Linked DNA regions of Homo sapiens: region 1 is linked to region 2. The links come from fine-mapping of genetic effects on gene expression. A gene starts in region 2. The other region holds a variant in brackets. All regions are shown on one strand. Distances are between the middles of the regions.

Region 1 (4,389 bases), 220 kb after region 2:
TAGAAGCCATCAAAGCCTGCGCTAATACACGCAGGAGGACAGAGTATGATGCTAACTCTGCATGAATGTATGGATATCTTTGTCATATTTACATATGAGTGATTATGAATCCCTTTTGCTTTTCAGTGTCTTCTCAGAAACCACCAGCCTTGAAGGTAATGAAACTCTCATTTATATTGTGAACGAGTTAATGTATGGTCTATGAAACATATTTTATTTATTATTTCATTTCCAATTCCATTCAGGCTACAAGTGACGAGGAAGATTCTGTTTTGAATATAGCCAGAGAAAAAAAGGATGGAGAAAAATCTAGAACAGGTAATTTTGAAAACAGATTTAATGTCATGTTCAGTCCAGATAGATAAGAAGTCCCCTTCCCCAAATAAATCAGCGGGGGGCTCGTCGAAGCTGCACTTCCTGATTCAGCAGGCTGGAGGTTCTTCATTTGTAGTAAGTTCTTGGGTGATGCTGATGCTGCTGGTCTGGAACATGACCTTGGCTGTAAGATTATACAGTTCCCCACATTGAAGTTGGGAAGAAGATATATGGAGAGCAGTTGAAGACATAAGGGGCTCTGGGGAACAGCATAGTTTTGCTTTAATTCTCCAGCTTGTTCTCAGTAAGGGTGGAAGGAGAAAGAGAGGAAGTATCGATTTTACAGATGTCACATCGTACTGCTAAGAACAGACAGAAAACTTGTTGTAATAACCCATATACACTGTAGGAGAACTAAGGAGGCCCCTGGTGTAGCAATCATTTTCCCAAGGATGACGGATTGTGAGGCAGGAAGGTGTGAAAAGAGGCAGTCATTTATATAATTTTGGGGTTTCCGCTGAGGAAACCTGAGTGAACTCACTTCAGATGCATTTGGAATATTTTAATAAAAAATACTTGATTTTGGCTGCTGCAGGAACTGCTGGAAGAAGGAAACAATCCTAGAATTGGCATAAAAACACACACACTGACTCATTACTCCTCTTTGTTACTATTAGGCATCAGAGATACATGTTTTGTTGATTTTAGTTACAGAAATGAGACAAAGTTGAATCTGAATACATTGGCTTCCTTGTTCAAGGAGCTACCTCTTGGATACAATAGCTATTTCATGAAACTTCTTTAGAGAACAACATGATACTCCCAACAAGGCTATTTTAGAAACAAAAATTATGCTGGATTCTAATTAACTCCTAAAATGGTCATTTTCAATGAATATTGCACTGATTTCTGAATGAAAAACTGATCAATATCTAATGCTTGCAGCAGTTTTACTTTGTATATGTATGTCAAAATTGATAATTGATGATATTTTTATTGAGGCTAATATATTATCCTTTGTTGCCACGACTGGATGAAGAAACTTTCGGAAGGCTAAACTAGTGGATACAAGAAACTTAGGCAGATTATTACACCATATGGTTGAGAGAGATAATGAATATTATCTACTAGGTATCAGCAAACAGATATCCAAGGTGATTAATTTAGCACACTTCCACTGAAGTGATGTGAAGTGTACGTTCAACTGAATTGTCGTCGTAATTGTGTGCCTTCTCAGTTATTGGGCAAGTTAAAGAGCACGATGAATGTTTGTATTATAATGGTGTAAATCCTTTTAATTTGTTGCATGAAAGGTAAGTGGGATCATGTAGCACCTGCTTTGACATTGATTCTCAGGTGTATGTGTTGCTCCTCTGATTTTAGATCACTTTGACCTCATCACTCGGCATATCCACGTTGATATTGACATGGTTTTATTTTAGTTTTTGGCATATGACAAATCATACCATGTTTGAAATTCTAAGACTATATTTCGTGGAGCCTGTATTCCCTTTTCTCAGCATATTTCTGTCATGTTCTAGTCCCCAGACACAAAGTAGAAGCCATCAAAGCCTACGCTAATACAGGCAGGAGGACGGAGGTTGATGCTAACACTGCATGAATATGTGGATAATTTTGTCATTTTTACATATGAGTGATTATGAATCCCTTTTACTTTTCAGTGTCTTCTGAGCAACCACCAGGCTTGAAGGTAATGAAACTGTCATTTATATTGTGAACTAGTAAATGTATAGTCTATGAAACATACTTTATTAATTTATTATTTCATTTCAAATTCCATTCAGGCTACAAGAGATGAGAAAGATTCTCTTTTGAATATAGCCAGAGGAAAAAAGCATGGAGAAAAAACTAGGAGAGGTAATTTTGAAAAGAGATTTAATGTCATGTTCAGTCCAGATAGATAAGAAATTCTCTTCCGTGAATAAATCAGCGGGGGGCTCGTTGAAGCTGCACATTCTGATTCAGCAGTCCTGAGATTCTTCATTTCAAATAAGTTTGTGG[G/T]TGATGATGATGCTGCTGGTCTGGAACGTGATCTTCGCCGTAAGATTATACACTTCCCCATATTGAAATTGGGAAGAAGAAATATGGAGAGCAGTTCAAGGCATAAGGGGCTCTGGGGAACAACATAATTTTGCTTTAATTCTCCAGCTTGTTTTCAGTAAGGGTGGAAGGAGAAAGAGAGGAAGTATAGAATTTACACACTTCAGATCGTACTGCCAAGAAAAGACAGAAAGCTTGTTGTAACAACCCGTAGACACTGTTAGGAGAACTAAGGAGACCCCTGGTGTAGCAACTATTTTCCTAAGGGAGATGGATTGTGAGGCAGGAAGGTGTGAAAAGAGGAAGTCATTTATATAATTTTGGGGTTTCTGCTGAGAAAACCTGAGTGAACTCACTTCAGATGCATTTGGAATATTTTCATAACAAATATTTTATTTTGGCTGCTCCAGGAACTACTGGAAGCAGGAAACAATGGTATAATTGGAATACACCACCACACTGACTCATTACTCCTCTTGGTTACTAGGAGGCATCAGAGATACATGTTTTGTTGATTTTAGTTATAAAAATGAGATAATCTTGAATATGAATAAATTTGCTTCCTTGTTCAAGGAGCTACCTCTTGGATAAAATAGCTATTTAATGAGACTTCTTTAGAGAATAACACGATACTCCCAACAAGAGTATTTTAGACACAAGAATGATGTTGAATTCTAACTAACTCCTAAAATGGTCATTTTCAATGAATATTGCAGTGATTTCTGAATGAAAAACTGATTAATATCTAATGCTTGTAGCCATTTGACTTTGTAGAAGTATGTCAAAGTTGACAATTGATGATATTTTTATTGAGGCTAATATATTATCCTTTGGTGCCAAGAGTGGATGAAGAAACTTTCGGAAGCCTAAACTAGTGGATACATGAAACTTAGGCAAATTATTACACTACATGGGTGTGAGAGATAATGAATATTATCTACTAGGTATCAGCAAACAGATATCCAAGGTGATCAATTCAGGACACTTCCACTGAAGATATGTTAAGTGTACGTTCAGCTGGAGTGTCATCGTAATTGTGTGCCTTCTCAGTTATTGGGCAAGTTAAAGAGCATGATGAATGTTTTTAGTATAATGGTGTAAATCCTTTTGATTTGTTGCATGAAAGACATGTGGGATCATGTAGCACCTGTTTTGACATTGATTCTCACGTGTATGAGTTGCTCCTCTGTTTTCAGATCACATTTGTCCTCATCGCTCATCATATCCACATTGATATTGACACGGTTTTATTTTGGGTTTCGACACATGACAAATCATACCATGTTTGAAATTGTAAGGGTATATTTCATGGAGCCTGTGTTCCCTTTTTTCAGTGTATTTCTGTCACCTTCTGGTCCCCTGAGACAAAGTAGAAGCCATGAAAGCCTCCACTAATACAGGCAGGAGGACAGAGGTTGATGCTAACACTGTGTGAATGTATGGATAACTTTATCATATTTACATGTGAGTGATTATGTATCCCTTTTGCTTTTCAGTGTCTTCTCGGAAAAAAGCAGCCTTGAAGGTAATAAAACTCTCATTTATATTGTGAGCTAGTAAATGTAAAGCCTATGAAACATACCTTATTTATTATTTTGTTTCAAATTCCATTCAGGCTACAAGTGATGAGAAAGATTCTTTTTCAAATATAACCAGAGAAAGAAAGGATGGAGAAACATCTAGGACAGGTAACTTTGCAAAACACATTTAATGTCATGTTCAGTCCAGATAAGAAGTTCTCTTCCCCGAATAAATCAGTGGGGGGCTGGTCGAAACTGCACATTCTGATTCAGTAGGCCTGAGATTCTTCATTTCTAATAAGTTCTTGGGTTATGCTGATGCTGCTGGTCTGGAACATGATCTTTGCTGTAAGATTATACACATCCCCACATTGCAATTGGGAGGAAGAAATATGGAGAGCAGTTGAAGACATAAGGGGCTCTTGGGCACAGCATAATTTTGCTTTATTTCTGGAGCATCTTTTCATTAAGGGTGTAAGGAGAAAGAGAGGAA
Region 2 (4,389 bases):
CTGCAGCATCCCTTGAAGGAAGATGGGTCAGAAGACAAAGGCTGATGCTGGCTGCAGAGTCTGGGGAGCTGCTCACTGGCCCCCAGCCCAAGTGTGGTTGGAGACAGTGGAAAGGCGGTTCCTCCCGATGCCCATGTGGGCCTCTAGCAGGCCCAGACTGTGAAGGCCTTGGGAGCCCCTGGATAGGCAGGCACCTGCCTAAGTAGCTGCTCCCAGGCTCTCATGGCCACCCTCTGTCCTTCCTCAGGGAAAGAGCTACTGGCATCTCTCCATCACTGGTTATGTATGCCCAGGCGGCGCCCAGGCCCTGCCCAGCCCAGAGGGTGGGAAAGACACATCCAGGAAACTGTGTCTAGCAGAGTGGTCGGTTTTGAGCTGAAGCCTAGGGTTGGGGGTGGGAAGGAGGCTGATTGCCCTGTCCGAACCCAGCCCTGGCAGCATCCACCCCATGGGCTGTGGGCACTTGCACCTCACCAGAAGCTGGGGAGTCTGGCAGAATGACAGGGATGGGGGGATCAAGGAGGCACCTACTCCCAACACACCCCCGTGGCTGGGGGTGCTGGTCTGGGTACCTGAGACGGGGCACCTCCCACCTGAGCCTGGGGAGGCGCTAGACATTGTCCGTGGGCACTGAGAGGCCACGTGCTCTGCTCCCATGGAGGGAGCAGGGAGGAGAGGAGGTCCAGCAGGTTGGACGGGGCCTGGGGGAGCCCCACTGTCAGAGGTGGATTGGTGCTTATTTATACAGAGGATGCCTTGCAGAGTCGTGGGCTGTGAATAAGAGGCCTGGCTCGAGGCGGGGCTTATGACATTAGGGGCTCCAGAACCGGGGAAACATGCCCTCAGGGCTGCCCAGGCTGGTGCTGGTGGCGGTGTGGCAGGGAGAGTGAGTTGGGGCCCTGAGGGAGAACAGTTGCTCATAGCGCTTTGAAGGCGAGTGGGGGGCCTTAGTCTGAAGTTTCTTTTTACCCCAACCCTCTTTCCACTGTCACCCCCAGAAGGGCTTCAGTGTGTATGTGGGGCAGGACCGCAGCAGGGAGGGAGGGTCAACCCCTTCCCCCGGGGTCACTACAGAAGCGGAGGGACGCTCCTCTCTTCACGGCTGCCCCTGAGACCTGCTTTTTCTCGGAGCTGTGTGACAAAGTCCCCACCCTTTACTCCCCCACGGCAAGGAAGGGACCTCCCCTTCGCATTAGTCAAGGGGCGGCAGCTCGCCCTGTGCCCCGTACAAACCCTTGGCTGAATCGCAGTTGATGCTGTGATTCGAGTCCAAGCCAGTTTCCCTGTTACCTCCTTTGCCCTTAATGGAGGAAACTGAGGCAGCTGCGGAGACACAAGAAGCCGAAGTCCTAAGACCCAGGCTGCGAGCGCTGGCTCCGGGACCCGGGCTGCCGCTGACGGGCTGGGCCCGCGGGCGGCAGCAGGGGGCGCTCGCAGGCCGGGACGCGCCCTCCTCGCGCGGCGCTGGCCCGACGGAGCTGGTCCGCGAGGGGCAGCGCCTGGGAAAGGGTCGGGACCGGCTCCCCGCTCCCCGCTCCCCCACCTCTCCGCAGGGCGTCTCCACGGCCGAGCCGGGCGGGGTTGTGGTGTATTGCGACCCGGCGCCCCAGCCCCACGCCCGCCCTGCCCTCCCTGCGGGCTCCCGAGCGGCGGAAGGCAGAGCAGGGCGCACCGGCGCCGGGCCCAGCCCGGTTCCCCCGGGAGAAGTGTCCCGTCCCGGTGCCGGCCCGCGCGCTAGCTCCGCGTCCCGGCTCCCGGCACCCACCGACCCCTCCACAGCTGCGCGCGTCCTGCCTGGGGGCCGGAGACCCCGGCCGCCGGGCCCCTCCGCTCTCCCGAGGCGCGGCCGCCGGGAGGAAGGCAGGTAGAGGCGCTGGGCGGGGTCCGGGCGCGGGAAGTCCCGGGCTCACGCCTCCCGCGAAGCGCACCTTCAGCCCACCTCGGTCCGCCCACCGCCCCGCCTCCCGCCCGCTCCCGCGCCCGCCTCCAGTCTCCGCCTTCCTCCAGCCGCTCTCCCCGCTCCCCACTCCCCTGCAGGCGCGGCTGGGGCGAAAGCCTGCGAGCTGAGCGGGCGCAAGGTCCTCCGCGCCTCCTTTAAGAACCGGCCCAGCCCGGCCCGCGCCCCCAGAGCGTACGGCATCCGCGTGGCGGGAGGGCGCGACTTTCTCCGGTCCCGGGCGGGACGGGGACGGCGGCGGGACAACTTGGGAAACTTCTCTGGGGCGGACGGCAGGGACCCCGGGCACCGGTGGAGGAGGATGTAGGAGGGCGGCTGCTGGTCCTGGGTGTTCCCGACCTCCTAGGCCCCGCTCGTCCAGGCCATGGGGCTCCAGCGCCCTCGGCGCCGCCCGAGGGGCGACGCTCTTGTCTAGCCGAGCCGGGCAGCGCTGTCGTCCACGGTGCGCACTGGGCGGGCAGCGCTCCCTCTGCCCACCTCCCGCCCCGTCATGGACCACCAGGACCCCTACTCCGTGCAGGCCACAGCGGCCATAGCGGCGGCCATCACCTTCCTCATTCTCTTTACCATCTTCGGCAACGCTCTGGTCATCCTGGCTGTGTTGACCAGCCGCTCGCTGCGCGCCCCTCAGAACCTGTTCCTGGTGTCGCTGGCCGCCGCCGACATCCTGGTGGCCACGCTCATCATCCCTTTCTCGCTGGCCAACGAGCTGCTGGGCTACTGGTACTTCCGGCGCACGTGGTGCGAGGTGTACCTGGCGCTCGACGTGCTCTTCTGCACCTCGTCCATCGTGCACCTGTGCGCCATCAGCCTGGACCGCTACTGGGCCGTGAGCCGCGCGCTGGAGTACAACTCCAAGCGCACCCCGCGCCGCATCAAGTGCATCATCCTCACTGTGTGGCTCATCGCCGCCGTCATCTCGCTGCCGCCCCTCATCTACAAGGGCGACCAGGGCCCCCAGCCGCGCGGGCGCCCCCAGTGCAAGCTCAACCAGGAGGCCTGGTACATCCTGGCCTCCAGCATCGGATCTTTCTTTGCTCCTTGCCTCATCATGATCCTTGTCTACCTGCGCATCTACCTGATCGCCAAACGCAGCAACCGCAGAGGTCCCAGGGCCAAGGGGGGGCCTGGGCAGGGTGAGTCCAAGCAGCCCCGACCCGACCATGGTGGGGCTTTGGCCTCAGCCAAACTGCCAGCCCTGGCCTCTGTGGCTTCTGCCAGAGAGGTCAACGGACACTCGAAGTCCACTGGGGAGAAGGAGGAGGGGGAGACCCCTGAAGATACTGGGACCCGGGCCTTGCCACCCAGTTGGGCTGCCCTTCCCAACTCAGGCCAGGGCCAGAAGGAGGGTGTTTGTGGGGCATCTCCAGAGGATGAAGCTGAAGAGGAGGAAGAGGAGGAGGAGGAGGAGGAAGAGTGTGAACCCCAGGCAGTGCCAGTGTCTCCGGCCTCAGCTTGCAGCCCCCCGCTGCAGCAGCCACAGGGCTCCCGGGTGCTGGCCACCCTACGTGGCCAGGTGCTCCTGGGCAGGGGCGTGGGTGCTATAGGTGGGCAGTGGTGGCGTCGACGGGCGCAGCTGACCCGGGAGAAGCGCTTCACCTTCGTGCTGGCTGTGGTCATTGGCGTTTTTGTGCTCTGCTGGTTCCCCTTCTTCTTCAGCTACAGCCTGGGAGCCATCTGCCCGAAGCACTGCAAGGTGCCCCATGGCCTCTTCCAGTTCTTCTTCTGGATCGGCTACTGCAACAGCTCACTGAACCCTGTTATCTACACCATCTTCAACCAGGACTTCCGCCGTGCCTTCCGGAGGATCCTGTGCCGCCCGTGGACCCAGACGGCCTGGTGAGCCCGCCTGCGCTGCCCCTGTGGGGTTGGTGCGGTGGCGCCGGGGTCACCCTGCTTCTTGCCCTGCTGTGTGTGGCTGCCTCCCCTGGGCTTTCTGCTCCCTGCCCAGATCCTGTAGGCCTCATCTTAGGAACCCCTTGGGAGGGGTGGGCAGGGGGGCTGCTAGCAAGGGTCCCAGTGAAGCTTCCCCTTGCCGGCTTAGCTGTGGGGGACCCCTTCTCCACCCTCTCCCTGAGCACAGGCCGATGGAGGTGGTTCAAATCCTCTGGAACATAGCCAAGACCAGGAGAAGAGAGAGCACTTTCTTCCCAGAGCCCCATGCTCTCCAGACCAATGTCTGGGCTTCCCTTTCTTGAGGACCTTGTGTTCCTGGCAGGTCACTTGCTTGTGGTGTTTTCGTTTCTTTTTCATCTCCCCCCCACCCACAAAGAGCACGGAGCCAGCCTTCCACTTTTCCCAGTGGGGCCTGCTGCTGAGGGGGAGGAAGAAACGAAGACTGATCACCCACGCTAGGCACTCGCGGTCCCTGGCAGGCGCTGGGATGGGGGCTTATGGGGTGGCATCGTCTCTGGGCCCTCCTTTCCCCCTTT

Alleles and levels. Positions count from the first base shown, and alleles are read on the strand shown. Sizes are in standard deviations (SD) of each study's normalised expression.
In carriers of allele G in region 1, the expression in transverse colon of the gene that starts at base 2,026 in region 2 tends to be lower than with T alone (small effect, 0.28 SD a copy in GTEx).

Evidence for each region. PIP is the estimated chance that this variant, and not a neighbour inherited with it, causes the effect. A credible set is the group of variants that fine-mapping cannot tell apart.
Region 1: its variant is the best candidate, but not a certain one, in a credible set for the expression of ADRA2B in transverse colon (GTEx, PIP 0.68).

Annotation. Positions count from the first base shown.
Region 1 is chr2:95,895,074-95,899,462 of GRCh38, reverse strand. ANKRD36C (ankyrin repeat domain 36C) reads left to right here. Exons shown (of 88, transcript NM_001393982.1): 57 at 127-155; 58 at 246-318; 59 at 1,998-2,026; 60 at 2,121-2,193; 61 at 3,873-3,901; 62 at 3,992-4,064. Among named protein-coding and RNA genes, the nearest start is that of LINC00342, 70 kb to the right of the region's middle. The variant G/T (reference allele first, on the strand shown) is at 2,338.
Region 2 is chr2:96,114,208-96,118,596 of GRCh38, reverse strand. ADRA2B (adrenoceptor alpha 2B) reads left to right here and starts at 2,026. Exons shown (of 1, transcript NM_000682.7): 1 at 2,026-4,389. The coding sequence starts at 2,448. The coding sequence ends at 3,800. RefSeq lists silencers at 1,197-1,266, 1,307-1,766, 1,777-1,936, 2,037-2,126.